Homo sapiens: one gene and its partner. The protein of the gene in region 1 purifies or fractionates together with the protein of each later gene. This does not show direct contact. Each region holds a gene or a part of one and is shown on either strand. Other genes may lie near its edges.

Region 1 (3,500 bases):
AGGTCTAGGCCTTTTGATGTTCCCCTTTCATCCTGGAGGCAGAGGATCATGCCTCTTGGAAGAGCCTGACTTTAGGAGATAGTTCAGATAGCTAGGGCATTAGGAATTTATATCTCTGATCCGAGTAAAACACCAATCCCAGAATTCTTGGAAATGACATGGAGACTATCCCAAATCCCTTCTCCCACCCCTAGAGCAGCTTGCACAGAGTTACTTGCAGAGATCCAACTTAAAGTTTATTTATTGACCTGTTAATGATTCTTATGATAATGCATCTTAGAATCATTAAAATGTAATCTCTGATTCACACAGTAGCAGTCATATAACATTTGAGTATTGTAAATGTTGTTGCATTGCTATTTTCTCCTGTTTATTTTTTAAAAATTATTTTACTTTATTGTGGTAAGAACACTTACCTTGAGATCTACCCTCTTAAAATTTTAAGTGTACTATCCAGTATTTTGCAATGTTAGACAGCAGATCTCTTATAATAGCAAGAACTAATAATCTCCAAATTGACTGATAACCTGCCCTCATACACGTAAAATATCCATGAAATACAAATCACACACACAAAATCTATACCCCTGGTGAGAATAATTTACAAAGCAAAGACACAATTTTGTAATGATTCCAACTCTTCCCCATGTAAGGATAAAGATTTTATGCAATTACAGTAGAAATTCCTAAAGAGTATGTCTTGGAACTTAAGGAAAATAGTTCTAAAATGAATCTGGGAAAGTAATCTAAGGAGGTTTTTGGAAAAGAAAAACAATGTTGGTACCGGTGGTAGCTGGATAGCTGCTCCTGGGTCCTCACACTTGTTTCCAACTGTTGGCACAATCTGGTCCAGCCCCACCTAACCTCGCACCCTCCACTGACCCTCCCCAGGAAGCTCCTGCTGCAAGCCTAGTGCTTCTCAGTGCCCAGTGACCACCTCACCCGCCCACTCCTGTCTTCATCATTCCTTCCCACCTTTTCTGTACCTGATCAAGCACCTACTACCTTTCAAAAGCTGACCTAAGTTCCTGCTTCTCTAAGTAACCTTCTCAGATGACTTTTGCCTGCATTTACTTGTGTGTGTGTATGTGTGTGTGTGTGTGTGTGTGTGTATGTGTGTGCATGCGCTTATTATCTTTACTCATACACATTCATCTATCAGATTATTGAGATCTCCAACATATACTTTAAGCAAAAGATATTCGGAACAAGCAGACATTCTGTCCTTGCCATCTCTACAGCATCTGTCCAGATCACTTCTCACTAACAGGTCAGTAAATAAACTTTAAGTTGGATCTCTTCAAGTAACACTGTTGTACTTAAGAAACAGCACCAAAAAGATCAGCACACAATTGAAGAGGACATCCTCTCTAGTGTGAAGGCAGGGGCTCCCTGACATACTTTGTGTCAATCAAGGTGTCAGCCGTTATCCGTGGAGGCGATACAGGCACACCTGGGTTTGAATCCCATCTCCAACACTTTCCAACCTTGTGACTGAGTAAATTTAGCCCTGTGAGCCTCAGTGCTTTCATCTCTACAAGGTAGATAATAACAGAACTTGCCTCACAGAATTTTGATGAAGATTGAAGTATATTTGACAGGTAAAGTGATGAACAGTGTTTTACGGGGAGAAAGTCCAGTGACTGTTATAGGTACTAATGTTTACCGGCAAGGTTGGGTGTCTGTGAGCACCAGCAAGCACTTCAGCTCCTGCCCACCCTGCCCCTGACCGTAGCTGGCTCCTGCTGCCTTCATGGTGACACCCACAGCTCGGGCCCTGTTCTTGAGGAATGCCTGTCTCCCTTCCCCAGCAGCCCCAGGGTAGCTCTGTCTCTGTTTGTCTACCCCACCTCTGTCCTTCCCTCTAAAGGGCCAGGATGAGAGCTCCTGGGACTGCAGGGCAGGTCCAGCCTTGGCAGCATCTGCCAGCTTACACCTGCCCATGCTGCCTTCCAAACATCTCTCAGGTACATCCACTAGCCGCCGTTCCTTCTGGGTCCTCATCACTGCCATGTCTTGCCTAGACCACAGCAGAAGCTTCCTAACCCCCTGCACCATCTTTGCTTTTGCCTCACAATTAAAACCATTCTCTACAGCCAGAAGGTACTTTTAAATCAGATCATGCTCTTCTTAAAGACTTTCAGTGACTTTGCATCCCACTTAGAAGAAAACCCACGTCCTTACCGCAGCCTCCGAGGTCCTGTCCCGCCCCCATTTGTAACTCCCATGTGATTGCATGCTGCTCTTCCGCCACTCGCTGTGCTCCCACAACTCTGGTGGCCTTTCCATCGTTTGAGAATGTCATGCCCTTTCATACCTCCGGCCTTCTGCACTTGCTGTCTGTCTTGAACACTCTTTCCCTGACATATCCTCACCCTTCATTTCTCAGCTCAAATGTTGCATCCTTACACTGCCTTTCCCTGACCACCCTATCCAAAGTGGTCTTCCCTAGTTACACTCTAGCATCTCACTCTGTCTTTTTTCCCCCTTACTACCAATTATCACAATCTGAAACTACGTTGTATGTACATATGTGTGCATGCTTGCTCCTCTTCAATTCAGCATCATTAGGCCAATGCCTGGGGAAGGACAGAACTCCTTGAAGGCAGGGATTCCCATCTGTTTCATTCACTGCTGTTCTCCCAGCACCTAGAGCGGCACCTGGCCAGGGAGCACACTCAATAAGTGTACTTTGAATGAATGAGTATACGTTTAAGTGAAGGCAAACCTTACCGGTCAGAATGGATGACTGTGCCTGATTTGGGGTCGATGACATGAACAATAACTCCACGGTGGCCCCAGCTCCTTTCAAAAAAATAGCCTCCTTCTGCCATGCCACCTGGGTGAAGGGTCTTGTTCAGAAATGTCCAGGAGAGCTTTTTCTGTCCATGCAACTCAAGAGCGCCTCCTTTACCAACCCCAATGTACTTCAGACCATAGTAAGGATCCGGCTGAATACCTTCATCAGCCCTGCAAGAGAAAACAGCTCCCCAGAGTTGGCTGACACATCTCTTTACTGGATACTGAACCCAGAGGGAACCTAGGAGTCACAGCTCAGCTCCCTGACCCCCCACCACGGCCACCATAGAGCCAGTCACACTTTTATCACCTGAGGTCAGTAAAAATAACACTAGCGGCTGGGCTTGTGGCTCATGCCTGTAATCCCAGCACTTTGAGAGGCCGAGACAGGCAGATCACTTGAGGTCAGGAGTTCAAGACCAGCCTGGCCAACGTGGTGAAACTCCATCTCTACTAAAGATACAAGAATCAGCCAGGCGTGGTGGAACATGCCTGTAGTTTCAGCTATTTGGGAAGCTGAGGCACCAGAATTGCTTAAACCAGGAGGCAGAGGTTGTGGTGAACTGAGCTCATGCCACTGCACTCCAGCCTGGGCCACAGAGCAAGATTCCATCTCAAAACAACAACAACAATAACAACAAAAACATTAGCAACCCAATCTTCCTAAGCCAGACCAAAATAAAGCCCTCAGGGCCAAGCAG
Region 2 (3,500 bases), on another chromosome or scaffold:
ATTAGTACTGACTCCATGTGGCAGCGGACAAGGAGACACTCTCCATTGTCTTCCAGGGAAGCAGAGGGTTAGAGCTGTCTTCTTTATGCAAGTGTGTGAGGTCTCTGCGGTGAGTGTTGGCTTGTCTCAGATCTGGACAGACTGAGCTTACAAGGGCTGGGCCTAGGTCTTCTCACTCTTGCTCAAATGCCAGCACATAGAAGGAATTCAGGGCATGCCTAGTGAATGAATGAATTCATTGAATCATTTTCTTGGGGAGAAGTGGTGCTTCTTACATAGGACTAGGCTGCCAGCCTCAAGCCTCATGGTAAGGACGAGTCAGCATCTCTGATGTAGACATGGCTCAGAGTCGGGGGAAACAGTGCCCAGAGGAGCTGGGGGACTAGGGCCGCAGTCCTTACGGACTCTGACTCCACTGCAGTTTAACCTTTTTGGATCTCCGTGTTCTCAGTCCTAAATGGGTGGTGACCATGTCACCTCCTAGGAAAGCAAGGGGCTGGACCAGTGATGGTTTGAAGTCCTTTGTGTGGTCTGAGGGAGATGTCAGTGTCCTGACTTGGGGGAGCCTGGGCCTTTGCTCACAGCAGTCGCTGTCAGTGTTCCTTCCTGATCTCAGCTGTGGCAGTGTGGCTGCAGCTACTCCTAGGGCTCCTGCCACTCCTCAGTGGCCCACAACCAAAGCCTTCCTTCCTGTCTGTGCTTCAGATCTGCATGTTGACGTTCGAACACGAGATGGAAAAGGCCTTTGCCTTCCAGGCAAGCCAGGACAAAGTGTGCAGTATCTGCATGGAAGTGATCCTGGAGAAGGCCTCTGCTTCTGAGAGGAGATTTGGGATTCTCTCCAATTGCAATCACACGTACTGTTTGTCCTGCATCCGGCAGTGGCGGTGTGCCAAACAGTTTGAAAACCCAATCATTAAGTAAGTACAGCCAGGGGTCTTAGCTGTGGGAGCTAGGAGAATGTTTGATTTGAGACTTTATTCCGTCCACTTTTAAGCCCTCCGTTACCCTCAAGAGTAACTGGTGAGTTCTGGCCCCTGGCTGCATGAACTTCAGCAAGTCATTTACTCTTCCTGAGCCTAAGTGCCTGTTCCTATAAAAGATGGGCAACAATTCCTACCAAGCTTTCTGGGTGTTGGGGAGGAACTCAGCAAAGATGATCTGTGTAAAAAGGTGTTAAATGGCACTGACCTGTTTTCATCTCCTAGCCTTGTGTTTGAAATCCAGTAGTACCTGCCTGTAGCCCAGTTGCCTGTTAATCATTTTGAGCTTCGTTTTTTCCCCCCACCAAAAACGAAAATAGGGTTATTTGAGGATGAAGTGGAATAATGCATGTAAAACATTCTGCATGATGCCTGGCACATGGGATGTGCTCAATGTGGCCAACATAGGAGTCTCAAATTCTCCAGCAGGACAGGGGAAGAGCTGGCATGTGGAGAGGTTACTGCACGCGTTCTACTGTTCAGAACTCCACATCTGTCCGCTCATCTCATTCCCTCAAAGACCCTCCTCAGTTACAGATTAGGAAACAGGCCTGGGGTGCGGGGGTCAAGTAATTTGCCTAAAATCGTGTGGTGAAACAACTGCTCTATTGAGATAAAAGCCCACAATTTAACTCACCACTCATCCGCTTTCTGTCTCTACAGAGTTGCCTATTCTGGACACTTCTTATAAATGGAATCATAGAATTTGGGGCCTTTTGTGCCTGGCCCCTTTCACTGAGCATAGTGTTGTCAGAGTTCATCCCGACTGTAGCATGTGCCAGAGTCCCCTTCTCCTGGCGGAATATGTTCCATTGTATGGACGCAGCACATTTCCCTTATCCATTCCTCAGCTAGTGGACATTTAGGCTGTTTTAACTTTGCAACTATTATGAATAATGCTGCTGTCAACATTTGTGAACACAGCATGTGGGCATGTGTTTTCATTTCTCTTGGGTATACACCTGGGCGTGGGATTGCTAGGTTTTATGGTATAATAACTCTACATTAAACTGTTGGAGAATCTGCCAGACTCTGTTCAAAGTGGCTGCACCCTTTTACATTCTCACCAGCAATGTATGAGGGTTATTTCATCTGTCTTTTTTGTTGAGGAAACCATATATGTGTGTGTGTGTGTGTGTGTGTGTGTGTGTGTGTGTGTGTATTTTTTTTGCTTTAAGTTCTGGGGTACATGTGCAGAATGTGTAGCTTTGTTACATGGGTATCCATGTGCCACGGTGGTTTTCTGCACCTCTCAACCCATCACCTAGGTTTTCAGCCATGCATGCATTAGCTGTTTGTGCTGATGTTCTCCCTCCCCTTGCCCCTGCACCGACAGGCCCCGGTGTGTGATGTTCCCCCACATGTGTCCATGTGTTCTCATTGGGAAACCCTATTTTGTTAATAGTAAATAAGGTTCTTGGATGATTGTGATTTCATCTTTTGGAATTTCTGGTGAAGGAAATGCCTGTAGTGGTGAGGCAGTTGAGCAAGAGGTTTAGCAGAGAGTGTGCCCAGGCTTCGTAACATGACTTCTCCCTTAGTAATCTAATTCTTATTTCAGGTCTTGTCCAGAATGCCGTGTGATATCAGAGTTTGTAATTCCAAGTGTGTATTGGGTGGAAGATCAGAATAAAAAGAACGAGTTGATTGAAGCTTTCAAACAGGGGATGGGGTAAGTGCTTTTGAGTTTCGACGTGCCCCTGCTGCCTGCCTGGCTCTGCTGTCAGCCCGTGTCCTCGTTCTCCTTCCCAGGAGTGTGGTCTTAGGGGCCTCTTCCTCTCTTCCTTCTCTCAGGCACCATGCTGGGCTCTGGGATGCAGCAATGAGCAAGGACATGGTGATGTGGACCTGTTTAGTTTTGGTGTTTTTTTTTTTTTTTTTTTTTTTTCGGTGAGATAGGGTCTCACTCTGTTGCCCAGGCTGGAGTGCAGTGGTGCAATCTCAGCTCACTGCAGCCTCAGCCTCCTGGGCTCAAGCAGGAGCCTCTTGAGTAGCTGGGGCCACCAGTAGTGTGCGCCACCATGCCCAGCTAATTGGCTAATTTTTTTTGGTAGAGACAAGGTTTCGCCATGTAGCCCAGGCTGGTCTTGAACTCCTAGGCTCAAGTGATCCTCCTGCCTCGGCCTCCCAAAGTGCTGGGATTACAGGCATGAGCCACCGTGCCCGGCCTCAAATGTTCCTCTTTATCCTGGTTGTCAGCATGTTGATATTTTGCCTAGGAGTGGAGTGGTTTTTCTCTACGCTTATGTCACTCCCCAAGATGAGCGAAATTTTAGCTATTGTTTCATTAACTTTTTTTCTGTCTTGTTTTTTTCTTTTCCTGCTGGGACTCTACTTCCGTTTATGATAGTTTTTTTATATTGTTCATAGATCTCTGGGGATATTCATTCTTTTTCAATCTTTTTTTCTTTTCATCTCCTTGAACATAGTTGTAGCAGCTACTTTGAAATCCTTGTTATCTTGAAGTTGACCTCTGTTGTCTTTTAAGAATGGATCACATTTTCCTGATTCTTCGTA

The links. Proteins that work in one complex are often made in the same cells at the same time.
Region 2: the proteins of CEMIP (region 1) and MKRN2 purify together in Homo sapiens (affinity purification with mass spectrometry, with the first as the bait; one study listed by BioGRID). This does not show direct contact.

What each region holds. Positions count from the first base shown.
Region 1 is NC_000015.10:80,880,370-80,883,869, reverse strand, and holds part of CEMIP (cell migration-inducing and hyaluronan-binding protein precursor), read right to left. Parts: intron 2,971-3,500; coding exon 2,734-2,970; intron 1-2,733. UniProt on the Homo sapiens protein: Mediates depolymerization of hyaluronic acid (HA) via the cell membrane-associated clathrin-coated pit endocytic pathway. Binds to hyaluronic acid.
Region 2 is NC_000003.12:12,574,087-12,577,586, forward strand, and holds part of MKRN2 (E3 ubiquitin-protein ligase makorin-2), read left to right. Parts: intron 1-705; coding exon 706-920; intron 921-2,544; coding exon 2,545-2,655; intron 2,656-3,500. UniProt on the Homo sapiens protein: E3 ubiquitin ligase catalyzing the covalent attachment of ubiquitin moieties onto substrate proteins.